Linked DNA regions of Homo sapiens: regions 1 and 3 are each linked to region 2. Evidence: fine-mapped expression QTL. A gene starts in region 2. Each other region holds a variant in brackets. All regions are shown on one strand. Distances are between the middles of the regions.

The links. PIP is the estimated chance that this variant, and not a neighbour inherited with it, causes the effect.
Region 1: its variant is fine-mapped to the expression of MCUB in whole blood (INTERVAL, PIP above 0.99).
Region 3: its variant is fine-mapped to the expression of MCUB in whole blood (INTERVAL, PIP above 0.99).

What each region holds. Positions count from the first base shown.
Region 1 is chr4:109,675,077-109,683,076 of GRCh38, forward strand. MCUB (mitochondrial calcium uniporter dominant negative subunit beta) reads left to right here. Exons shown (of 8, transcript NM_017918.5): 5 at 7,506-7,666. It also overlaps a transcript of CASP6 not described here. Among named protein-coding and RNA genes, the nearest start is that of CASP6, 24 kb to the right of the region's middle. The variant A/G (reference allele first, on the strand shown) is at 4,108.
Region 2 is chr4:109,552,923-109,563,502 of GRCh38, forward strand. It overlaps MCUB (mitochondrial calcium uniporter dominant negative subunit beta), which reads left to right and starts at 7,324. Exons shown (of 8, transcript NM_017918.5): 1 at 7,324-7,514. The coding sequence starts at 7,416. It also overlaps the pseudogene SETP20 and the pseudogene CDC42P4. RefSeq lists a silencer at 7,271-7,590 and an enhancer at 8,011-8,210.
Region 3 is chr4:109,655,200-109,663,199 of GRCh38, forward strand. It overlaps MCUB (mitochondrial calcium uniporter dominant negative subunit beta), which reads left to right. Exons shown (of 8, transcript NM_017918.5): 2 at 3,812-3,887; 3 at 4,996-5,166. Among named protein-coding and RNA genes, the nearest start is that of CASP6, 44 kb to the right of the region's middle. The variant G/GC (reference allele first, on the strand shown) is at 4,081.

The DNA of each region.
Region 1 (8,000 bases), 120 kb after region 2:
AAGTGACCCATGTCAAAAAGAAAAAAAAGAAAAGGAAAAGAATAATTCTCTCTCATTTTTGGCCTTTATTAGGAAATGCCACAGACAAATGTTATGAGTCAGTTTAGGTTGGTGGTGTAACATGAATTCTGTGGTGCCCATGCTTCTGAAAGAGCAGAGCCAAGGGCATTCATTGTTGAACTCAGATAAACATTTCGTGCCACTTGACAAAGACTCTCACCTTGACTAAACTTCAGTCAGGTTCCTCGGAACCCTCTTCTCAACTAGGCGTTAACCATGGCCTATAAAAACTGTAAACTCTCAGCACAGATTTTGTCAACACTGCCCCCCTCACACCACACACACTAAGAGAGTTGAACCAACATTTGCATAGTTTCTCATAGCTCAAGGCCACATCATTTGGATGACAACTCTGGTTCTTTTAGAATGTCTGTCTGAGAAAGCTCAGTACCCTCTGGAAAATTTACTGTTTATTCCAGCCAAAACCTGGTGATAGGTCAATAAGCCATACAACCTCATCTTTAGAGCAGTGCTGTACTTTGAGTATGTTTCCCAAAGTTGATGTGTTGGAAACTTGATCCCCAGTGTTGTGGTGTTGGGATGTGAGGCGTATTGGGAGGTGTTTGGCTCATGGGGGCACTGCCCTAATGAATAGATGAATGCCATTTTCACTGGAGAGGTTATCTTGGCAGTAGGTTCCTTATAAAAGGATGAGTTTGGCCCCTTCTTGTGCTGTTGTGCATAAACACTTGCTTTCTCTCTGCCTCCCTTTTGCCATGGGATGATGCAGCAAGAAGGGTCTCACCAAATATGCCAACACCTTGGTCTTGGACTTCCCAGACTCCAGAACTGTGAGGAAATAAAATGTTGTTCTTCCTAAGTTGCCCAGTCTGTGATATTCTGCTATTGCAGCAGAAAACAGATTAAGACAGAAAATTGGTACCAGAAGTGGGGCTATAAGAAACATCTGAAAAGGTGGAAGTGGCTTTGGAATTTGGTAATGGGCAAAGGCTGGAAGAGTTTGGAAGAGCAGACTAGAAAAAGCCTATATTGCCATGAACAGAGTGTTAAGGACAATTCTGGTCAGGGCTCGGAAGAGAATAGCTGTAGGAAGTCTAAAAGTTTTTAGAGATTTACTTAAGTGGTCATGATCAGAATGTTTGTAGAAATATCGATGGTAGGCTGGGTGTGGTGACTCGCACCTATAATCCCGGCACTTTAGGAGGCTGAGGCGGGTGGATCACTTGAGGTCAGGAGTTTGAGACCAGTGTGGCCAACATAGTGAAACCTTGTCTCTACTAAAAATCCAAAAATATGTATATGGTAAAGGCCAATCTGATAAGCTCTTTGAAATGAGGAATATCTTACTGGAAGCTGGAATAAACACCATTATTGTTATGGACTTGCAAAGAACTTCTGAGCCCTCACCAGAATTGCCCTTAATACTCTGTTCATGACAATACAGGCTTTTTCTAGTCTGCTCTTCCAAACTCTTCCAGCCTTTGCCCATTACCAAATTCCAAAGCCACTTCTACCTTTTCAGGTATTTGTTATAGCAGTAACTCTGCTCCTAGTACCAATTTTCTGTCTTAATCTGTTTTCTGCTGCAATAGCAGAATAGCACAAGACTGGGCAGTTACAAAGAATTGTTTTCATATCCAAGGACTTTATGGAAGGCAGAATTTAAGAGTGACAAACTAATTTACCTGGCAGAAGAAAATTCTAAGCAAAATATTGAAGAATCTGCATGGTTTCTTTAACTGCATACAGTAAAATGAGAGGAGAATAGATTTAAAGACAGAATTCACAATTAAAAATGAGGCAGAATGTAAAATATTTGGAAAATTCACAGCTGCCCCTTGAGAATCCAGAACTTTAGAGCTACCAGTGTGCAGCAGCATCCTGGGAGAGCTGCAGGCATGAAACCTCAACCCATAAGAGCTACTGCCTGGGCTGAGCCCAGCAAAGCCATGGGGGCAGGACTGCCCAAGATTTTGAGGACCTAACCCCTGCCTTAGTGTATCCACAAGGTGGCATATGAATTCAAAGATTGTTCTGAAGTTTTAAGATTTAATGTTGTTTACTACCCTGTTGGGTTTTGGACTTACGTGGGACCAGTTACCTCTTTTTTCCTATTTCTCCCTTTTGCAGTGGAAATATCTATCCCATACCTATCCAGCCATTGTATTTTGGAAGTACAAACTCCAGCTGTGAGTTTGATTTCAGACTCACAGCTGGAGGATAATTTGCTTCAGGATGAATCATGCCTAGATTCTTGCCCATATCTGATTTAGATGAGACTTTGGAATTGGACTTTTGAGTAGATGCTTGGGGCTCTTGGGATGGAGTGAATGTATTTTGTGTGGGAAAAGGACATGAATTTGAGGGGCCGGGGCAGAATGCTATGGTTTGAATGTGTCCCTCAAAATTCATGTGTTAGAAACTTGATCCCTAATGCAAAGCTGTTGGGAAGTGGGACATTTTAGAGGTGTTTAGGTCATGAGGACCAACGTGAGTGGATTAATGTCGTTATCATGGGAGTGTGTTATCTTGGCAGTGGGTTCCTTAATAAAGGACAAGTTCAGCCCCTGCTTGCTCTCTCTCACCCACGTAATGCTTTCTGCTACATTATGATGCAGCAAGAAGGCCCTTGTCAGATGCTGGTGCATTGATCTTGGATTTCCCAGCCTCCACTAACAAATTTCTGTTCCTTATAAGGAAACAAATTTTTTTTTTTTTTTTTTTTTTTTTTTAGTTTTTATTGATCATTCTTGGGTGTTTCTCGGAGAGGGGGATGTGGCAGGGTCATAGGATAATAGTGGAGAGAAGGTCAGCAGATAAACACGTGAACAAAGGTCTCTGGTTTTCCTAGGCAGAGGTCCCTGCGGCCTTCTGCAGTGTTTGTGTCCCTGGGTACTTGAGATTAGGGAGTGGTGATGACTCTTAACGAGTATGCTGCCTTCAGGCATCTGTTTAACAAAGCACATCTTGCACCGCCCTTAATCCATTTAACCCTGAGTTGACACAGCACATGTTTCAGAGAGCACGGGGTTGGGGGTAAGGTTATAGATTAACAGCATCCCAAGGCAGAAGAATTTTTCTTAGTACAGAACAAAATGGAGTCTCCTATGTCTACTTCTTTCTGCACAGACACAGTAACAATCTGATCTCTCTTTCTTTTCCCCACATTTCCCCCTTTTCTATTCGACAAAACCGCCATCATCATCATGGCCTGTTCTCGATGGTCGCTGTCTCTTCGGAGCTGTTGGGTACACCTCCCAGGTGGGGCGGCCGGGCAGAGGCGCTCCTCACTTCCCACACGGGGCGGCCAGGCAGAGGCGCTCCTCACTTCCCAGATGATGGGCGGGCGGGCAGAGACGCTCCTCACCTCCCAGACGGGGCGGCCGGGCAGAGGCGCTCCCCATTTCCCAGATGGGGCGGTGGCCGGGCAGAGGCGCTCCTCACATCCCAGACGGGGCGGCCGGGCAGAGGAGCTCCTCACCTCCCAGACAGGGTGGCGGCCAGGCAGAGGCACTCCTCACCTCCCAGACGGGGTGGCGGCCGGGCAGAGGCGCTCCTCACCTCTCAGATGGGGCGGCCAGGCAGAGGCACTCCCCACTTCCCAGACGGGGTGGTGGCCAAGCAGAGGCGCTCCCCACATCCCAGACGGGGCGGCCGGGCAGAGGTGCTCCTCACTTCCCAGACGATGGGTGGCCGGGCAGAGGCGCTCCTCAATTCCCAGACGGGGCAGCTGGGCAGAGGCGCTCTCACTTCCTCCCAGATGGGGCGGCCGGGCAGAGACACTCCCCACTTCCCAGACGGGGTGGCGGCCGGGCAGAGGCGCTCCTCACATCCCAGACAGGGTGGCCGGGCAGAGGCGCTCCTCACTTCCCATTCGGGGCAGCCAGGCAGAGACAGTCCTCACTTCCTAGATGGGGTGGCAGCTGGGCAGAGGCGCTCCTCTCTTCCCAGATGGGGCAGCCAGGCAGAGGCGCTCCTCACTTCCCATTAGGGGCAGCCGGGCAGAGGCACTCCTCACTTCCTCCCAGACGGGATGGCCGGGCAGAGGTGCTCCTCACTTCCCAGACGGGGCAGCTGGGCAGAGGC[A/G]CTCCTCACATCCCAGACGATGGGTGGCCCGGCAGAGACACTCCTTACTTCCTAGACGGGGTGGCGGCCAGGCAGAGGCTGTAATCTTAGCACTTTGGGAGGCCAAGGCAGGCGGCTGGGAGGTGGAGGTTGTAGTGAGCCGAGATCACGCCACTGCACTCCAGCCTGGGCAACATTGAGCACTGAGTGAGCGAGACTCCGTCTGCAATCCCAGCACCTCGGGAGGCCGAGGCGGGCAGATCACCTGAGGCCAGGAGCTGGAGACCAGCCCGGTCAACACGGCGAAACCCCGTCTCCACCAAAAATACAAAAACCAGTCAGGAGTGGCAGCACGTGCCTGGAATCCCAGGCACTCAGCAGGCCGAGGCAGGGAGGTTGCAGCGAGCCGAGATCATGGCAGTACAGTCCAGCCTCGGCAAGAGAGGGAGACTGGGAGACCGTAGAGAGGGAGTGGGAGAGGGGGAAACAAATTTTTGTTCTTTGTAAATTATGGGGTCTGTGGTATCGTGTTATAGAAGCAGAAAGTGGACTAGTGGACTCAGACAAGCAGTTACTTTAGAAAGCTTGCAATTATGAACTTTCTCTCCCGCTTTGAGGTATAATTTTGTTGTTGTTGTTGTTGTTGTTGTTGTTTTTGAGACAGAGTCTCTCTGTGTCACCCAGGCTGGAGTGCAGTGGTGCAATCTCGGCTCACTGCAACCTCTGCCTTCTGGGTTCAAGCAATTCTCCTGCCTCAGCCTCCTGAGTAGCTGGGACTACAGGTGTGTACCACCATGCCCAGCTGATTTTTGTATTTTTAGTAGAGACGGGGTTTCACCCTGTTGGCCAGGCTGATCTCAAACTCCTGAACCCAGGTGATCCACCCACCTTGGCCTCCCAAAGTGCTGGTATTACAGGCGTGAACCACCTCACCTGGCCTGAGGGTATAAATTTTTTATCACCCAGACCTGTCTTCTCAAGGACTTGGGAGTCTCTCTTTGAAATGTTAACGTTCAAGGACATAACTCTGGCTCTTACTCCCAACCCGTGGGTGCCTGGCTCTGACTTGCATCCTGTCATAAGGTATGAGAAGTTTATTTCTCTTCTGGATAGGTACCAGTTAACAAACCCAGATGGCCCAGTAACATTAACCAACTATCCACTTTTTGTAAATTTTCATTTCCCTGACTCTGTTCAAGCCCCTGCTGTTCACCCTGCCCATTCTGTCATTCTTTCTTTAAAACAGTCATCTCTGCACAAATTGAAGTTGAGTTCAGTTCACGCTGGACCCTATTGCAATAGTTATTAATAAAATTTACCCTTGCTGTTTTAGTGCCTAGCTTTGCCTATCTTCCATCTATGCCTTTTCTCTGTATGTATATGTTTTATGTACCAATACATTTTTCATTAACAAAAGGACTCTGACTCTTCTACAGATCTCAAAGCCTAAAAGAGAACACCTAGCTTTCACCCCTCTGTGGCAGCTATAGCCTAGACTATGGAAGGGGGTAAAGACCACAGCAGTCTTGAATTGGGTAGTGATGGAAGAAAAATAACTTCAGGACTACTGACACAAACTGGAAAACTTACTGGGCTGATACCAACTCTAGACATATGTCTCTCTTGTCTGCAGTTGTTTGCTGCTGCCTGGTGGGAAGGTCCATCTTCCCTTCCTCTCACCTTGTCCTCCCTCAGGTTCTCTTAACAGTGATAATGAACAATTACAGCTCTCAGAAGGGTATCAATCTGAGGGACTTCTCATAGCAGAGCCTAATTTTATATGGACTTATAAACCCATGGAGGAGGTGGGATGAGGGAAGTCTATAATCAAGAGAACTTTATATTAAAAACTCTGAAACCGTAACTCCTGTAAGAGTTGAAAAATAATTTTCCCTTTACTCTTAGTTCTTAGCTGGGATGGACCCCTGTGATAAGAGAGATTACTAAGAAGAAAACAAACAGTAGTTTATTAATGTGTATATTCCATAGACACATGGGAGGTATCCAAGGAATGAGTAATTCTCAAAGAGGTGGCTCTGAACCTCAGCTGATAGAGCATCTTCTACAAAGAATAATACATTTTTAGAGTTGTGACAAGTCAAAGGAAAAGGTCCTTGAGTCTCTGGGGTCAGCAAATTGTGGAAAAGCAAATAAGTTGGTTAAAGGTAGTCAAAAGCTACTAAAGTTTGTCTGTAGATTCCTCTGGTGCAGTCTCCAAGCTGAAAAGGGTCTAAAGTTGTCTCTGGCGATCTACCTTTGTTCTTTCTGGTAGAGAGTGTTACCGGGGGTCCTTGCTCCCAGAACTCCCAAGATGGTCGTGGGCCACTTCCAAGATGATGGCAAGCCTCGTGTTCTCTGACCTGGGGTTCTTGGCCTCACGGATTCTAAGGAACGGAATCTTGGGCCATGCAGTGTTACAGCTCTATTAGAAGTCGTGGGTCACGGAAGACAACCATGGAACCCAGTGACTAGTGTTCAGCTCAATTAGGACAAACCCAGGCACTTAGCCGTGCAGGAACAAATGGCAAGCCTTTAGCCCGATCTGGAGCGGCAAAGGGGTGCCTCGCTGGATCAGGAGCACAGTGGACACCCTGCTGGATCCGGAAGAATGTAAGTCAGCAGCGAGTCTGCTACGGCGGCAAAACAGCAGTGGTGGACAGTGAGCGAAAGCTCAGCTCGAGCAGTAACAAACACGAACCAGAAGAGTGCAGTTTCAAGATTTAATAGTGTGAAATAGAGTGAAAACAGAGCTCCCATACGAAGGGAGGGGACCCAAAGGGGGTTGCCATTGCTGGCTCGAATGCCTGGTTTTATATCCCGATCCTTGTCCTTCCCGCTGTGCTCTCAGGCAATAGATGATCGGCTATTTCTTTACCTCCTGTTTTTGCCTAATTAGCATTTTAGTGAGTTCTCTGGTTGGGTGTGAGCCAAGTTGCAAGCCCCGTGTTTAAAGGTGGATGCGGTCACCTTCCCAGCTAGGCTTAGGGATTCTTAGTTGGCCTAGGAAATCCAGCTAGTTCTGTCTCTCACGAGGTCTTTGTAAAATTTGTGTCCTGCTTTTGGGCAAAAAGGGAGAGGCCAGAGAGCCTTTCTTGTAGCTGCTTATGCTCAATTGCCTTCAGCTGAAAATAATCCTTATGCCAAAGTCATTTTTTTGGTGACTTTTTTTTTTTTTACCTTGTATATGAACTGCTCTTCAGATCCACACTTTGTTGTTTACTGTGACTCTCTTTGTTGAAAAGTACACTTGAACTGCTTTTCAAATGTATATTACACCTTTGTTTACATGTTTGTACACCAGCTTCCTTACCCTGTGGATCCTAAGATAATATTTGGAAAGAGAATTGGGGACCGAAAGATTTACACACCCTGCGGGAACAATGTGGTGACTGGCTTGTTTCCCTTGTGTCTTTTCTCAGAAAAACCAAGTAATGAGCACACTGCTGAGATGGAACACATGAAATCTTTGGTTCACAGACTATTTACAATCTTGCATTTAGAAGAGTCTCAGAAAAAGAGAGAGCACCATTTACTGGAGAAAATTGACCACCTGAAGGAACAGCTGCAGCCCCTTGAACAGGTTAGGAAGCATCACGGTTGAGTATATTTGAAAATAATACCTAGTGTTTATTGAGTGCTCCTCATGTGAGCATTTTTCTGAATGCTTTCCATATGCTAATTTTCTCCTTTACGCCTCACAAAAAACCTGTAAGTTCAGTGCTTTTATCTTCCTCATTTTTCAGATGAGGAAACTGAGCAACAGAGCTGTATCGCTAATACATGGTAGAGCCTGGACTTGAGCTCACGTGGCCTGTGTTCAGAGCTGCCATCTTAAACTCTATGCCATGCCTCCTCTCCAGAGATCAGTCATAATGTCTCTGTAAATAAGTATAATATGAGCAGGGCAGCACTAG
Region 2 (10,580 bases):
AGCACCCTCCAGCTTCCAGCAGAGCGAAGGGAGCAGGTTTTTCTTTTTTCCCACAGAACTTGGTGGTGTTGATTCCATACAGTTTTTATTCAGACAGGAAGGGATAAAAATGAATTTCGAACAGAAAGGGGTAGAGACTCTTTTCTCAATGTAGTCTGCTCAAGATATTTCCCCCAATTAAGTGTAGAGAAAAGAGACCTCAAGAATAGGGCGACTGAGCACAGGAGGCAAAAACAAAACAAAATAAAACAGACTACAACTTGCTCCCAGGGACTGGAGAAAATTTAAAAAGGGGAAGGTTGGAATCCATCAGTATTCTATTAGTCATCTCTTTCATCCTTCTCTCCTTCCTCCCCTTCATCATCATCTTCTTCACCTTCATCTTCATCCCCTTCTTCATCAGTGTCTTCTAATCCTTCCTCCTCCTCCTCATTATCATCTTCTCCTTCTTCATCATCCATATGGGGAACCAAGTAGTACTGTAATGGGTTTGGCCAAATATCATCTTTGATGTCCTCTCCTAAGTCATCGGCCCCTGCATCAGAATGGTCAGTAAACCAGGTCAAGAAGCTCTCTGGTGCCTCATGCTGCCTCTTCCTGCTGGCTTTATTCTGCATTTGACTTAAACGTTTCGTCACATCCTTTCCAGATTTCCATTTGATTTCAGTGGATTTTGAAGATGGATTACCACTCTCATTCAGATGAAATTCTTTGGAGAGAACTTTATTTTCAAAGTAAGGATTTTCATCAAAATAAAAATCTACTCTGTAACCTGATTTAATATCTTCAAATTCTGTCACTTCAACTCTGGTCAAATAATGCAATGTCTCTTCGTTTTCCTTCCCAAGCAGTGCAGACACTTGTAAATGATTGCCAAATGTTGTTACCCCCAAATTTAGGATTTTAGAGATCAATTCTGACCTCTTCTGAAAAAATGGTTGGCGGAGTTTGTTATATTTCTGTTCTACTTTCAAAATCTCCTCATTGTCTTGTTCATTAAGTCTGTCTATTTCATTTTGTATTTCATCAATGTGTTCAATTGCTTCTTGCTGTTCTTTTTCGCCCTTCTTTGGCAAGCCTACAGAGGCCGAAGTCTCCTCTGGTCTCAGAACAGGAGGTGGTCTTGGTGTCTTCTTTCGAGACAGGAGGGAAGACTGGCATTTGGGGGCCAGGCTGCTAGGGAAGCCCAAGAACCAGACCACCAGTCTCCTTGCTCAGGCAGAAAACTCCAATTTCTTATATTTAATTTCATGAACATAGCTTATATGTTAGCAAGTTTAAGGTCATTTTTGAGATTCCCTTTGAGGCCCACCATGTGGGCATTACATTGTGAATCATCCATATGTGTTTGAAATAATGTGTACTCTCATTTGGGTACAGAGTTCTTTAATACTCTATTAGCAATGGAGGTCCAGGACCTGGAGACAGAATAGGGAAAGGAATATCCTTCTCTATTTACCATTAAAATTCTATCAAAGTGGGAGGCCCAATGGATAACAGGAGTATTCCTGGAAGCCATTCCTACGTGGGCATGGCTAGCAATATCTTAACAATACATAGAAATGACCATGAACCACACAAAAATATCCCACTAAACCCAAAGTAAATGTATCTCCAGCTCAGCTTGCTCTTTGCTTCCTAGAGAGACAGAAAGTAGATTAGTAGTTGCCTGGGGCTGGAGGTAAGAATGGAGAGTGAGGCAAATGAGCCTGAGGAATCTTTCTAGAGTGATGGAAATGTTCTAATTGATTGTGGTGACTGTTGCACAACTCTGTAAATTTGCCAAAAATAACTTTTAATAAATGAAAGTTACGATATGTAGATCATACCTTAATAGAGCTGTTTACAAAGTTTTTTTTTTTTTGAAAAGCGAGATCAGAGATTCGAATGTGAAAAGGCTGTGACATATAAGTAATACTTATGAACTAGCTCACATTGAGTAATCGTTTTGTCTCATCAAGAGTCCTATATACTGTGGGAAAGTTTGTTGTGCACCCGAAACATCTATGTGTGCCGAGCGACTTTGTGGACAGTGCCTCCCCGGTAAACCCGCTCTGTCTGCAGTGTCCGGAGCTTCTCCCACAGGAGTTTGCTAATCCCACCTTTGTGGCCAGATTCTGTGCTGCAAAACGGACATCTCCTCCCCCTCTTCTCCATTCCCCTCCTTCCTAATAAGACTCTTTTCTGGAGAACTGAGGTCAACATCAGATTTCAAATATTTAAAGTGGATACAAAACTATTTCAGCAATGCAGACAATTAGTTGCATTGTTGTGGTCAATGCAGTTGTTGGTAAAACATGTCTCCTGATATCCTACACAACAAATTTCCATCCTAATAGATACAGACTGTTTTTGACAACTATGCACTCACAGTTAGGACTGGTGCAGAGCCATATACTCTTAGACTTTTAATTCTGCAGGGCAAGAAGATTATGACAGACTATAACTCCTGAGTTATCTACACAGATATATTTCTAGTCTGTTTCTCAGTGGTCTCTCCATGTTCATTTTAAAGTATGAAAGAAAAGTGAGGGCCTGAGATAACTCACCACTGTCCAAAGGCTCCTTTCTTGCTTGTCACAACCCAAATTGATCTCAGAGGGTCTATTATTGAGAAAATTACCAAGAACAAATAGAAGCCTATCACTCCAGAGACTGCTGAAAAGCCGGCCCACAACCTGAAGGCTGTCAAGTATATGGACGGTCCTGTACCCACACAGCAAGATCTAAAGAATGGATTTGACAAAGCAATATTGGCTGTCCTGGAGCCTCCAGAACTGAAGAAGAGCTGGAAGCCTATGCTGCTATGAACATCTCTCCAGAGCCCTTTCTGCACAGCTGGTGTAGGCATCATACTAAAAGCAATGTTTAAATCAAACAAAAGATTAAAAATTAAAATTCATTTATGCAATAATGACAAATACCCTGCACCAACCCACATGCATCCATGTGAGACAGGGATTAGAGGTATGGCCCACTTCTCCCTCCCAATACTAGTTAATTCTGAGTAATTGTGTATTGTTAGAAAAGTGATCAGTACTCATTTTTGGTTTTTGTTTCAAAAAACAATTTTGTTTTTACTTAAAAGCAAGGCATGCTTGTGATGACTGTGTAACAGACTAATTGGAATTGTTGAAGCTGCTCCCTGGGTCCATTCTGGAGGGTAATCTGGGACATCTTAGTGGGGTTTTATTTTTTTCTTTTTTGGAGGAGGAGTGTTTGTAGGGTTTGTTTTTTAGTCTTTTTTCTTTTCTTTTCTTTTCTCTTTTTTAATTCATTAACCAGTGGTCAGTCCTTAAGAGGAGAAGGACGGATTGACTCCATATTCGACTTCCTAAATCTAGTTTAAAAAACATGTTCCCTATCTGGGGTGCTTTTAGGAAAGAATATAGTAAATGCCTTATTTAATAACATACCTCTTTTTGAAAGTTACCTTTTCTCTCCACCCTTGAGTAGGCTCAGTATTTGATGAAACTCATGAAAGTGGGTGAAAATTCTCTTGCCCCTGTTCTTTTCTGGGATGCACTAAATATGTGACTGTGACTTTCAAGGAAATTTGTTTGCCGGTTGCTGATTTTTGGGGAAGTTAATTTCTAACTTCTTTAACTGATGAATAAAGAAAAGTATTGCACCTTTGAAATGCAACAAGTGGATTGAGTTTGTAACTTAAAAAAACTTTTTTCCCTGTCAGTCATTGTCTTATATTATTATAGATTTGCAATCAATAGTATATGATGTTTCTAGAATGCAGCTGAAGACCTGGTATGTAGAGGCAATGTGAAGAGCGGTAGCAGAAGACCGACATCTATGGAATGATTCACAGCCTCTCAAGTTATAAGGATGGAGACCTGCTTCATGAAGAAGTTGGGGTGTGGTGGGGATGGATAGAACACTTAACAACATGAGATCAGTCAGGGGAATCTCCTCACTTCTGTGTAGCAGACGAGGAACCCAAGAGCCCCCAAATGAGGCTCTCTGGTTTGTTTTTTTTTTTGAGATGGAGTCTTGCTCTGTCGCCCAGGCTGGAGTGTAGTGGCACAACCTCGGCTCACTGCAACCTCTGCCTCCCCGGGGTCAAGCAATTCTCCTCCCTTAGCCTCCCGAGTAGCCAGGACTACAGGCACGTTCCACCACGCCCGGCTAATTTTTGTATTCTTAGTAGAGACAGGGTTTCACCAATGTTGGCCAGGCTGGTCTTGAACTCCTGATCTTGTGATCCGCCCGTCTTGGCCTCCCAAAGTGCTGGGATTACAGGCATGAGCCACCACGCCTGGCTGGCTCTCTGGTTTAATAAAAATTGTGTAAAGAATCTTATTGAAAGGTGACAATGTGCTGGCGGCCCTCGCTGGCTCTCAGCGCCTCCTTGGCCTCAGAGTCCGCTCTGGCCATGCTTGAGGAGCCCTTCAGCCCGCTGCTGCACTGTGGGAGCCCCTCTCCAGGCTTGCGGAAGCTGGTACCAGCTCCCTCTGCTTGCAGGGAGGTTGAGGGAGAGACGCGGGTGGGAACCGGGGCTGCATGTGGCCTTGCGGGACAGCGCGAGTTCCGGGTGGGCGTGGGCTCCGTGGCCCCGCACTCGGAGGGCGGCCGGCACCCCCGGCCCGGGCAGTGAAGGGCTTAGCACCTGGGCCAGCAGCTGCAGAGGGGGGCGTCAGGTCCCCCAGCACTGCCAGCCGGCCCGCGCCACGCTCAAATTCTCACCAGGCCTCAGCCACCTCCCCATGGGGCAGGGCTCGGATCTGCAGCCCGCCATGTGCAAGTCCCCCCGCGGTGGGCTTCTGCTAGGCCCTAGCCTCCCTGAGGGGCACCGCCCCTGCCTCAGCGGCGTCCAGTCCCATTGACTGCCCAAGGGCTGCTGAGTGCAGGCACGAGGCACGAGCGCAGGACTGGCAAGCAGCTCAGCCCGCAACCCTGGCATGGCATCCACTAGGGGAAGCCAACTGGGCTCCTGAGAGGGGTGGGGACTTGGAGAACTTTTATGTCTAGTTAGAGGATTGTAAATGCACCAATCAGCACTCTGTCTAGCTAAAGGTTTGTAAATGCACCAATCAGTGCTCTGTGTCTAGCTCAGGGTTCGTGGATGCACCAATCAGCACTCTGTATCTAGCTAATCTCCTGGGGACTTGGAGAACCTTTATGTCTAGCTAAAGGATTGTAAACACACCAATCAGCACCCTGTGTCTAGCTCAAGGTTTGTAAATGCACCAATCAGTGCTCCGTGTCTAGCTAATCTAGTGGGGACTTGGGGAACCTTTATATCCAGTTAAAGGATTGTAAATACACCAATCAGCACTCTGTATCTAGCTCAGGGATTGTAGACACATCAATCAGCACCCTGTCAAAACGGACCAATCAGCGCTCTGTAAAATGGACCAATCAGCAGGATGTGGGTGGGGCCAGATGGGGGAATAAAAGCAGGCTGCCAGAGCCAGCAGTGGCAACCTGTCTGGGTCCCGTGCCACGCTCTAGAAGCTTTGTTCTTTTGTTGTTTGCAATAAATCTTGCTGCTGCTCACTCTTTGGGTCTGCACTGCCTTTATGATCTGTAACACTCACCGTGAAGGTTTGCAGCTTCATTTCTGAGGCCAGTGAGACCCGAACCCACTGGGAGGAATGAACAACTCCGGACGCGCCACCTTAAGAGCTGTAACACTCACTGCCAAGGTCTGCAGCTTCACTCCTGAAGCCAGCGAAACCACTGAACCCACCAGGAGGAAGAAACTCCAAACATGTCCGAACATCAGAAAGAACAAACTCCGGACACGCTACCTTTAAGAACTGTAACACTCACCACCAGGGTCCGCGGCTTCATTCTTGAAGTCAGTGAGACCAAGAACCCACCAATTCAGGACACATTATCAAGATTCTTCACAAATGTTAATAGGGATTTTTATCAGTTTTAGTTGTAGTTTCCAATTTCTAAAAATGTTCAGGTAATTTTTTTACACCTTTCAGAACCTAGCTCATGAGTGTTGAATCAATGCTTTTTCATGTCAATTCTTTGTATAGGCATTCTTTTCAGTTGTATTAAACAAGAACCCTTCACAACAAAAAAACAAAAATACACGCTTCTTTCACTTGGAGCACTAGCTAATAGGAGGAAAAGATTCAGGTAAGGTAATTTACCTTCCCATATGAACTTAAAGTTTCATGTGTCACTCTCCATCTGGGGCAACTGTATTTTGAAAGACATGCTAGTTAACACAGGTGAATCAGCCTTTAATAGTGATAAAGTTTTTACTATAGTAGAAACTTGTGATTCTTTCCCTTTTCAATAAGGAAAGGAGATTACCGCCAGGAGTGATTTGCCACTTATTGCAGGTTTGCCAATTTTGATTCATTAACTGAACCCTCTTGCAGATTCAGGAGATAAAAATGCGGAGTGCCCAGTTAAATTTGAATTCAGATAAACACCAAATAATTTAGTATATCCCAGATATTTCATTTTTAAAATAATAAATGTGACCCATGCAATATTTGGGACATACTTCACTATTTGTATCTAAAATTCAAGTTTAACTGGGCATCCTATATTTTATCTAACAACCCTACTGTAATTGGTTTAGGTTGCTCTTTAATGCCTTTGGTTTGCTTTCAAAAATAAGTAGTCTCAAAACAAAGCATCCGATTTCCCAGTAGTTAGAAGAACTCAATACCGGTTCCGAAGCTTCTTCAATTAAAAACGTGCTTCAAAAGAGAAGCCAATTCTGTGGGAGATACTTTCCCAAAAAACTCGGGTTTGGGCCCCTATACCGTGAACTACAAACCTCCGCAGGGGTAGGCCCGGGCTGCCCGCCTCACACCGCACTCGCCAGCGAGCAGGGGCCCGGCACCGCAGCCCGGGGCAGAGGCCTTGGAGGTTGTGGAGGTGGGAGAGGCCTCGGCCGACCCGCTTCAATCCGTCTTCTCCAAGCTCGGTGGGGAAAACAAACTTCCTGAGCGGCCCTGCCCCCTCCAGATGCCGGACGCTGTTTTCGTCTCATCCCCGTCTGGGTTGGATGGCGAAGACGGCGCTCAGAGCACGCAGCACCGGGAATTAACAGCGAGTTTTGAAATCTAGAGCTCGCAAGGTGTGCGTCGCCTGCTGCTGTTCATTCCAGAGGGTCTTCTGCTGGAGAAGGAGGGGGCCCTCGACCTCGGGCTCCCGCTCTCGGGCTCCCGCTCTCTCGCTCTCTTTTTTTTTTTTTTTTTTGGTCGGAGGAAAGAAAACAGCCCTGCGCCCGGATGCGTAGAGAGCCGACAAGTGGAAACAGGGACACACCCTCCCGTGAGCCCGCCCAAGCTGGAGCCGCGGCGCGCTGAGCGAGCAGGCGGGGCGGGAGCGCCCACAGCTCGGAGCCACCAGGCGCTGACGAGGAGCCCGGCTGAGGGAGGATGCGCCGCTGACGCCTGCGGGAGCCGCGCGCCTGGGGCGGGAGGATGCTCCAGAGGGGCCTCTGGCCGTGGCGCACGCGGCTGCTGCCGACCCCTGGCACCTGGCGCCCAGCGCGCCCGTGGCCGCTGCCGCCTCCGCCCCAGGTAAGAGCGGGTGCCGGGCTGTGGGGGTTCGGGGTAGGCTGGTGCAAAGTTTGCGTTGGACAACTTTGGCGGGAGCAAAAGCCGAGCGGCCGAGCAGTCAACTGCGTTTTGCTGGCTGCCGGGCTCCGCGCGCCGGGCGGTCCCGACAGGTGGTGGCCGGGCGGCCGACGTGGGTCACGGAGGCCTGGGCTGAGGTCAAGACTCCGGGCCCGGGGAAGGTGAAGCCAGAGCGCTGCGGCTGGGGGTGCCTCACCCGGGCCGAGATAGGGTGCGGGGACCACCAGACTTCGGCCTGGGAGCAGCAGAATAACCTGGGAGGCAGTTTCTGGGCTGCAGCTCTCGGTCAGGAGCAAGTTTCCAAAGCCGCTGCGCCGCGGGGCCGGTTCCCTCTTGGTGATCAGTGCCCGAGCCCCTAAGGAGCCCGGAAACGATGAACGGGGCAGTGACCGTCCCGGGTGTGGACGGTCGCAGGAGAGTGAAATTTCCATCCTGAAATCTGCGAGCACCTCCCTTTCCCAGAAGGAAGAAAAACTCGCGTTTTGTTCAGACACCCGAGAGACGGGTGAATCATGAGTGTGCTGGTGAGTAACAGTTGGCCTGACACCGTTGTATTGTGGTCTGTGGAGAACCGTGGCTTGGAGGAGTAGAGAGTGGATGTGCACCAAAAAAGACTAGAAGAAGGGGAAAGCGCTGAGTTTAAGGAGGATTGCGATGGAGCCTGACAGGAGCCCGGGAGTGCAAACTCTGACCCAGATGAGGAAAGACAGCCAAAGCCTTCAGGGTGTGTGTGGTTGGGGAGGGAGCTGTTTCTGAGTTTTCGTTTGTTCCTCCCCCACACTGTTAAGATTACTTTCAGATTGTTAAAGGCTTAAAAGCCAAAAAGTAAGCAGTGTGATTCTCTTGTCACTTTCACTTCCTGTTTATTTTGTTCTTTTTTTTCCTTCCCCCCCTTTTCCTCCAGCTGTCTGAGGGCTTCAGTTTCAATTGATGCAGGGAATATTTAAGTGCATTTTTTTTTCCTTTTCATTGAGCTTGTGACCAAAGGATTAAGTGCATTCAGAAAATCAATTCCAGGAATGTTTGAAAGAGAATGAGGAAGGCCATGTTGTTACTAAATGTAAGAACAGGGGCAAACTCCTTAAAATGTAAAATGGTAGACTTATAAAGTCATTGGGGAGATGGGCTTTTTATACTTTTAAAGGTTGTACTTTTACTGTAAGTGTTGCATTGTGTAGTCAAAGAGATACCAAACATTAAAACAACCCAATACGAGGAACCCCTTTCACATGCCATTTTAAACACAGATTATTGTTTTTTGTTGTTGTTTTTGGAGACGGAGTCTTGCTCTGTTACCCAGGCTGGAGTGCAGTTGTGCGATCTCGGCTCACTGCAACTTCCGCCTCCTGGGTTCAAGCGATTCTCCTACCTCAGCCTCCCCAGAAAATAGGATGACCGGCGCGCGCCACCGCACCCGGCTAATTTTTGTATTTTTAGTAGAGACGGGGTTTCACCATGTTGGCCAGACTGGCTGGTCTCGAACTCCTGACGTTGTGATCCGCCCGTCTCAGCCCCGCAAAGTGCTGGGATTACAGGGGTGAGCCACCGCGACCAGCCCCAAGTGTTTTCTATTAAGTCCATTTAACACGTTGAGTAGCATTTTTGTGGATCCCGGGACTGGCTGCCCTTTCTCAAATTATCACCTGCAAATCCTTTTCTCCATATTTCCCATCTGATGCTGTCTAGGGTGGTGCCATTGCATACCTCAGCAGGAATGTGGATACCCTTTTAAAAGAAAATGGTACCATCGGGCTTATTAGGCCTAATAACAGGGAAACAGTAGTTAGGAATCATCGTAAGAAGCGTTATGTTTGAATGTTTCTAATTTGCAAATTTTTGTTTTAAGCCAACTGTCCAGCTATAAAGACAATTTTCAGAACTTGAGAAGTGGAAATGCTGTTCTTTATATACAGCTTTTACATTTTACCATGAGTAAACCGATAAAAATATTCTGGCTCTTGAGGAGTTTTAGCTAGGACTACTAAACCATTTTCTGCTAATCAAATTACCTGGCTATCGGGACATTTTTCATTCTAAGATATCACTCTTTTGTGGCTTTCCCACTTGTTATGAAATATCCTGTGGGTAAAGGCAAGTATTATTTCTATTTATTTTTTTTCCCAGAAACATTCAGACCCCTAGAGCCTATGAAGCAGCTAGAAAAACAAGTAGTTTGTGACCTGACAGCTCATAAAATCTTAGCTTGCAAGGACTTGTCGTAAGCAGTATTTCAAATAAGCGTTCCCAACTATAATTGGTCTTTCTGAAGTCTTTCACACTTCTATGAGTGTGCCTTATAGGAGCATTTAATAACTTTGAAAAATACACAATTCTCATACTTCATATTGTATGTGAGCAATTGTCTGCTAGTGTTTTCTGGGTGAGGGGAAAAAAAAACAGTTTGTTGACATGGATATACAGAATTGTTTTTTAAAGAACACATTTAGTCTGAAGCGTAGTAGAGCAAGAGCATATTGTATTCATCTTTGGGCAAGGCATGGCCTGGTGGCCATAATCACGCTCTGGTGGCAGCATCTCTGCTTGTCAGCACTCTAGCTGAGTGGTTGTCAGGGCAATCCATGGCTCCTGCTGATGTTTCTGTGCACAAAGACTCAGCTTTGAGTAATTGTGGTGCTTGGTGAGTTACATCTGAACAGAAAGCCCTTGCCTAAATGTGCCTTTCTTAATTTGGATTTTGTGCTACTTAGACTGAGAAACTCCCTGATACGATTTCATGTCCCCAGTACAGCATTTGAGTCCATACATAAGCTATGTTTAAAAAATTTTTACATCAAGCACTCTGCAGAGCAGCTTAAGTATCGAGTATGCTTTTTTTAACTTCTAGAAACAAAGCATATGGATGTTTAAATTCCACCACAAGATGTCAACTTAGAAATTGTTTTCATCTTTTTAATTTAATGAACATATCGTTCTTGTTTGACATGTTCCTACTATTCTATCTCTTGTATTTGCAGTTGGTACATTGTATTCTATTCTATAAAACTAACT
Region 3 (8,000 bases), 100 kb after region 2:
ACAGTTTGTGTGAACATAGTTTTCACTGTTGGGAGGTCCCAAGCCCAGAAGCTTCTGTCTCATGAAGTTGGATTATGTCACCCTCCCAACACGTGGTTGCATTCACCAACCTGAAAATTCGCTGAACCTCATTGTTTAGGGACTTTCATGGAGGTTTCATCATGTGGGCATAATGGATTTTATTAACTCAGTCTCCAGCCTCTGTCCCCTTCCTGGAGGCTGGGAAGATGGGACTGAACATTCTAGGCTTTTAATCAAGGTTTGATCTTTCTAGCAACCAGCCCCATCCTGAAGCCATCTAGCATCCCACCAAGAGTTACCTTGTTAAAACCACAGAAACTTCAATCGCTCGTGAAATTCCAAGGGATTCAGGAGCTCTGTGGTCAGGAACAAAAAATGCTTCATGGTTAAAGAGAAGCCCAAATCATCTTTTGCCCTGATAGCAAATTCCATTTAAAGGCAGTAACGCTTGACCAGGCACTAAAATTTGGAATTCGGAATGATTCTACGCAGAAATCTAGCATGTTGCCACGAAGCCTGGGGCAGCAGGGGGTGTGTGTGTGTGGTGGTGGGGGTTGTGGGGAGGTTGGCTAAAGCCCAGCTTCTCACAGTGTGGTTCTCACCCTTGAAACTTCAGTTTACCTCTGGAGCTTATTAAAAATGCAAATCCTCACAAACTGACCTTTTAGATTAAAAATCTCTGTGTATGGGGTCTGGGAATCTGTGTTTTTAAGGCTTCCAGGTGATTATTAGGCAAGCAAAAGCTTGAGAAAGCCCTGCTGTTTTTCTCAGGCCACTCTGCCTTCTTTCAGCATCTTCTGGTTGTCATGTGGGTGCCTCTATCTTGTGGGTGCTACAGTTACTTCTTCAGTAGTACACCTGCAACTTTATCAGTATATTAAATGATACTTTGTAATCATTTTATATTGCCTCCAACTGGATTCCTGGATTCTCACAGGCATTATCACCAATGGCATTTAGGAACCTGACTCATATGTCTTTAGCATTATACGGACTCTAGCATAGAATTTGGTAGGTAACGTGTAGAAAAAAATCTGGAAGGATACATGCCAAACCACTGGCAGTGGTTACCTCTGGGGAGACTTCCAGGATTATAGAGAAGTAAAGGGAGGGGCTCTAACTTTTACTCTCTACTTTTTTTTTTTTTTTTTTTTTTTTTTTTTTTTTTTTTTGGAGACAGGGTTTCCCTCTGTGGCCCAGGCTGAAGTGCAGTAGCTACAATCTCGGTTCACTGCAGCCGCCTCCTCCTGGGCTCAAGCAATCCTCCTGCCTCAGCCTCCCAAGTAGCCAGGACTACAGGCATGTGCCACCATGCCAGACTTTTTCTGTAATTTTTGTAGAGACAGGGTTTCACCATGTTACCTGGGCTCAAACTTCTGGGCTCAAGCAATCCGTCTGCCTCAGCCTCCCAAAGTGCTGGGATTATAGGCAGGAGCCATCACGCCTGGCCTACTCCCTACCTTCGTGTATTTGACTTTTATGCACAGAAAATTATCTGTCTCATTATTTTTATAGAAGAATTTTGATAGAGAATTCTGATGTGTCTCATTTTTATGTAGTTTTGCTAAAAGTAGTAGACGGTATTGTAATATCCATTATCCACACTTGGAGAACTTCTACCTATATTTATTTATTGAGAGTTGCATCTATTTTAAGACATCATCTGCCTTTTTCTTCTCATCTTAGTAGTGAGCTACATTTTTAGAAATAATGCTCAGGCCGGGTGTGGTGGGTCACGCCTGTAATCCCAGCGCTTCGGGAGGCCGAGGCAGGCTGATCACAAGTTCAGGAGTTTGAGACCAGCCTGGCCAACTTGGTGAAACCCCATCTCTACTAAAAATACAAAAAATTAGCCAGGCATGGTGGCAGGTGCCTATAACCCCAGCTACTTGGGAGGCTGAAGCAGGAGAATCACTTGAACCCAGGAGGTGGAGGTTGCAGTGAGTTGAAACTGCATCACTGCACTCCAGCCTGGGCAACAGAGCAATATTCCATCTCAAAAAAAAAAAAAAAAAAAAATAGAAAGCTCAAATGAACAGTCTTAATGTAAAAGATGATGTTGTGTTGACATTTATTGCCTATGTTGTGTTTAATACTAAAATATGTATTTGAATGTTTTGTTTTACTTATTGATGAGGTTCTTTTAATTTTGAACATAATGGACCTTCATTTGGGTCAGTGTCATCTTTATTTTTTGAAACAGCGAACACACTTTTAACCACTGATTTATTATTTTAATAGTGTACCCTCAAATCCTGAAAAATTTAAAAATGCAGTTTATAAAAGAATTATTCTTTGCACAATTACTGGCAAACTTATTGTTAATAAACTACTGTAAGGTGATGCATTAAAAAATCTGGATCAGTATGTTACAGCCACCGTGTTGTGACTTTGGTACTAATTTCTCTGGTACAAGTCCTTTTGAGTTCCAAATGCCTGTGAACCAATTCCCCAATGCCTGTTCTTTCTACTCCCACAATATCTTTGTTCACACAGTGCACCATGATATTATTCGGTCTTCATTAAGCACCAGTGCAATTGTGTAAACACAAACACCAATGCAAGCCCCCAAAACATGTTCCGTGGTGAGGTGGCCATTCAGATGTTGTAGACTCAGCACTGCTGTCCAATAGAACTTTCTGTGATGATAGAAATATGCTATTCCTGCGCTTTTGCTTTTCAGTGAGATAGCCATTAGGCATAGGGAGCTTTTGAGCCCTTGAAATGTGGCAAAGGTGACTGAGGTTCTGAATGTTTGTGTACATAATTTTTTTGTGGTTGCTGTTTATAGGAGACAGGGTCTCACTGTGTCGGCCAGGCTGGCCTTGAACTCCTGAGCTCAAGCAATCCTCCTGCTTCGGCCTCCCATAGTGCTAGGATTACAGGCGTGAGCCATCGTGTCCCACCCGTACATAATTTTAACTAATTTAAATAACCACATTTAACAAGTGTCTACCATATCGGACAGCACAGATCTAGAGCAGTGTTTTTCAGACTCTAATGTGCATGTGAATCTTCTGAGGATCTTGTTAAAATGCAGACTGGAATTCAGTACATCTGGTCTGAATCTGTGATTCTGCATTTTTTTTTTTTTAAGACAGAGTTTTGCTCTTGTTACCCAGGCTGGAGTGCAATGATGGGATCTTGGCTCACGGCAAACTCCACCTCCCGGGTTCAAGTGATTCTCCTGCCTCAGCCTCGCGAGTAGCTGGGATTACAGGCATGTGCCACCATACCTGGCTAATTTTGTATTTTTAGTGGAGACAGGGTTTCTCCATGTTGGTCAGGCTGGTCGCGAACTCCTGACCTCAGGTGATTCGCCCACCTTGGCCTCCCAAAGTCCTGGAATTACATGCGTGAGCCACCATGCCCGGCCCGATTCTGCATTTTTAATTAGCCCCAAGATGCTCCTGGTCTGGGGACCACATATTGAGAAGCATGTCTCTAGACTAGATATACTTATGTCCATTTGTTTTAGATTATTACCTGAAAGGAAATACTGAAAGTAAAAATTCTCACAGAACTCTAGGATTTTCAGGGGGCCTCATACCCCAATTTAGGGATCCCGTCCTGGTGTGCTACTGCTACAGCATACATAGTAGCAGGCAAGCATATAGCCAGGAAGGTTCAGTGAGCTTGCCAAGGGCTCACCCTGGGATGCATGACAAGTTGAGTTTTTCATTATGCTTTTCATATAGTATTAAAAAGAATCTTATGGTAAAATAAAGACACTTATTTCATCTTTCCCACTCTTTTTTTAAAAAAACAAATTAATTTTTCCTTCTTGTAGGTTTTGCGTGTGAAGCTGTGTGGAAATGTGAAATACTACCAGTCACACCATTATAGTACCGTGGTGCCACCTGATGGTAAGCTTTCTTACCATTTATTTGATTCATATGTTAATTGTTTCCCTTTCTTCCAAATAAAGAGCTGCGAGAGTTTTGAGCAGAATAGACTTTTCTTACACTATCCCCATCCCACCCCACCCTGATTGGGTTCACTTCCACCTTTTTGTGCTCCCATAATATAGCTGCTGTCTTTTGTCAAATTCCCACCTCA[G/GC]AATCAGAGGAGTCAGAGATGATAAGCAATAGTCGGGTGGGTGTGGTGGCCTGTAATCCCAGCACTTTGGGAAGCCACGGCAGGCGGATCACTTCAGCTCAGGAGTTTGGGACCAACCTGGCCAACAAAGCAAAACCCCATCTCTACAAAAAATACAAAAATTAGCCAGGTGTGATGGCACATGCCTGTAGTCCCAGCTACCCAAGAGATTGAGGTGGGAAGATTGCTTGAGCCCAGGAGGTAGAGGCTGCAGTGAGCCATGATCGTGCCACTCCAGTTTGGGCAACAGAGTGAGACCCTGTCTCAAAAAGAAAGAAAAAAAAACAAATAGTTTCTGTCCTCAAGAAAACTAGAACTTAAGTGTTTACCTGAGAAGACTTTTTTTCTTTTTCATTTAATCAGGGTCTAGCTGTGTCACTCAGGCTGGAGTGCAGTGGCACGATCTCGGCTCACTGCAACTTCTGCTTCCCAGGCTGAAGCCATCGTCCCAGCTCAGCCTCTTAAGTAGCTGCAACTACAGGCGCACACCACCATGCCAGACTTAATTTTCGTATATTTTGTAGAGATGGGGTTTCGCCATGTTGCCCAGAGAGCTCTCAAACTTCTGCGCTCAGGCAGTCCACCAATCTGAGCCTCCCAAAGTGCTGGGATTACAGGCATGAGCCACCATGCCGGCCACCTGGGAAGACTTTAAGCAGATAATAAAGTGTGGTATGTGCTACACTAAAATGTTATAGAATGGTAGGGAATATGTAAACTGTAGTATAATGAAGGCATTATTGGAGCAATACAAATTTTTATAAGACTTCAGAGGTTTGTGAATTTCATGTTTGAGCATTCCTTCTAGAATTCTTGTATTTATGGTTTTTTTTAAAGTAAAATTTACTCATTTTTTTTTCTTTTTTTCCTTAACAGAAATAACAGTTATTTATAGACATGGCCTTCCCTTGGTAACACTTACCTTGCCATCTAGAAAAGAACGTTGTCAATTCGTAGTCAAACCAATGTTGTCAACAGTTGGTTCATTCCTTCAGGACCTACAAAATGAAGATAAGGGTATCAAAACTGCAGCCATCTTCACAGCAGGTATATATGTATATAATTTTACAACTTTGTCCCAGGGTTTCTGTCTCTCCTGAACTTTTGTTTGGTTCTTTACTTTTCTAGAAGTACATTGTTTAATTCATTAGATAATAAATGGTTGGTCTTTATTCTTTCATTTTTATGCATCAACACTATTTTAAAAACTGTTTTGGCCTGGCGTGGTGGCTCACACCTGTAATCCCAGCACTTTTGGGAGGCCGAGTCAGGCGGATCACCTGAGGTCAGGAGTTCGAGACCAGCCCGACCAACATGGAGAAACCCCGTCTCTACTAAAAACACAAAATTAGCCACCCGTGGTGGTACATACCTGTAATCCCAGCTACTTGGGAGGCTGAGGCAGGAGAATTGCTTGAACCCAGGAGGCAGAGGTTGCAGTGAGCCGAGATCACGCCATTGCACTCCAGTCTGGGCAACAGGAGTGAAACTCCATCCCAAGAAAAGAAAATTAAAAAAAAAAAAAATTTAACTTCATTGAATGAAAAATTAATGGAATAAATTTAATGTAAATTTCAGTTACTTATTTTATAAACTTAGCCTTAAAGGTTTTTCATGAGAAAATCTTAGTGGCACAGGCATTAGCGTGCAATTCTCAGCAAAATTTGAATAATTAGAAAACAAAATGCAGTTTTAATTATTAAAATAAGCCAGTGAATAATTAAAGTACACAAAAAATTTGTTCACCACTGTTATAAAGCAATTACAGTCTAGTATGTTTTTTGGCAGAATTAGTTCTTAGGAAGAATATACATTTTTTAAAAAACCAGAAGTATGTCATCACTTAGACATTTAAAATTTAGAATACAGCTTTCATGTTCTCATAGTCTGAAATGGTCTTAGACCAACTGCTTCTAAATAGAATAAAGAATTATTTACCCTATCCCACTACATAGCAGCTGCAAATATAGATAAATTAATAAATTTGCATTATTTCATTATGATATTAAATACTTAGAATAAAGTTATTTAGGTTCATGATTACTGTTGCAGTTTTGAAAGGGAAATAAACAGACTTTTTCCCTATCCAAGTTCCAAATTAATTAAAAGATAGAGAAGTTGGAAAATGGAGATTAATTGATTCATTCAACAAATATTTATTGAGCACCTAATGTATGTCAGGCACTGTTCTATACGCTAGAGGTAGTGCAGAGAACAAAAGGGATAAAAACTCCTGCCCTTATGGAGCTTATATTTAGGAGGAGAAAAAAACAAGATAAATTATGTATTATGTTAAATAATAAGTGTTACGAAGAAAAATAAAGCAGAGTGTGGAAGATGTGTGTGGGCAGGGGTGGGCTTGATAAGATTACATTTGCACAAAGACCTGGGGGAAATGAGGGAGGGAGTCACGTAGAGGGAAGAGAGCTCTGGGCCGCATGCGGTGGCTCACACCTGTAATCCCAGCACTTTGGGAGGCCGAGGTGGGTGGATCACCTGAGGTCAGGGGTTTGAAACCAGCCTGGCCAACATAGCAAAACCCCTTCTCTACTAATAATACAAAAATTAGCCAGGTGTAGTGTTGCATACCTGTAATCCCAGCTACTCAGGAGGCTGAAGCAGGAGAATCGCTTGAACATGGGAGGCGGAGGTTGCTGTGGTCCGAGATGGCACCACTGCACTCCAGCCTGAGTGATAGAGTGAGACTGCATTGAGGTGGGAGCCTACTACACAGTGACCGCAAAGGAGGGAGCTGGGAGAAAGGAGGAGTTCTGAGAGGTGGGGAAGGGCAGATCAGGAAAGGCTTATTGTAGGTTGTTGTTAGGACTATAGATTTAGCTGGAAGGGACGTTTCTTCCTGCTAAAACCTGGATCAGAGAATAAGGTTTTAGCCCTATGGCACAATGGGCTTCCTAATATTTCATCCTTGAACTAGACAGACATTTCCCCCAGGCACAGGAACACTGGAATGTCCATGGGCGTTTTCCACAGGGGCAGGGCCCTCTTTCTAAGCTTCTAGGGGCAGGCAGACCCAAACCTGGAAGTCAGAAGGGCCTGCACTGAGCAGCACTTGCCTGGTGGTGTGTACTCAATTAGTATTGAAGTGAATGAAATAAGAGAGGTTAAAATGATAGATGTTTATCCTGCTTATTTCTAAAAATAAAGTTAGTAGCTTTGAAACAGAAAGCACAAAGAAAGAGAATAGAAGTCTTAGAGAAAAGGGACTCTTTGGACTGAGTGCAAACACCCTATCGGGGGTTTAAATTGATACCCAAGAATACATGAAAAATTTAACACTGTATCACTAGTGCTTAAAAATGTTTCACGTCAGTCTTTTGCTATTCATACCTTTGTATAAAGGATAATATAGTATTTCAACTGAGAAATCATATTCAGTGTATGTCTTTTTTAGTAAGATTTTAAGGAGCTGGTTTGAAGTCATTTACATGTAAATTTTTAAATGACACTTGGAAAGATAAAGCGATTGGTGTGTTGCTGATTTTTTTTTTCTTCTTTTTAAAAGACTCTGTGGGTGGAATTTGCCTGCATTTAATTTGGGCTTGAAAAGAGTGTTCTAAGCTTGTCACAGTTTTGCCCATTGTGTGGGTTGAATTATTTGGCAATTTTTTGGAAAATGATCTCACTGCAACTGATGAACAGCAACCCAAACAGCCAAATTCTAGGAACAGACACAGGTGCAGACTTGATTTGCAGTCTTCCAGAACAAAAGAACTATAGGGAGGCAGACAAGAGGCAGCAGCCAGTTTCTTCGGGATGTTACTAGTGTTAGTCCTGTCATCACACATATTAATATAGCTAAAATAGCTCGGGTTGAATGTAACCAAATGAATGTCAGGCCGGGATTTGAAAATACACATCCA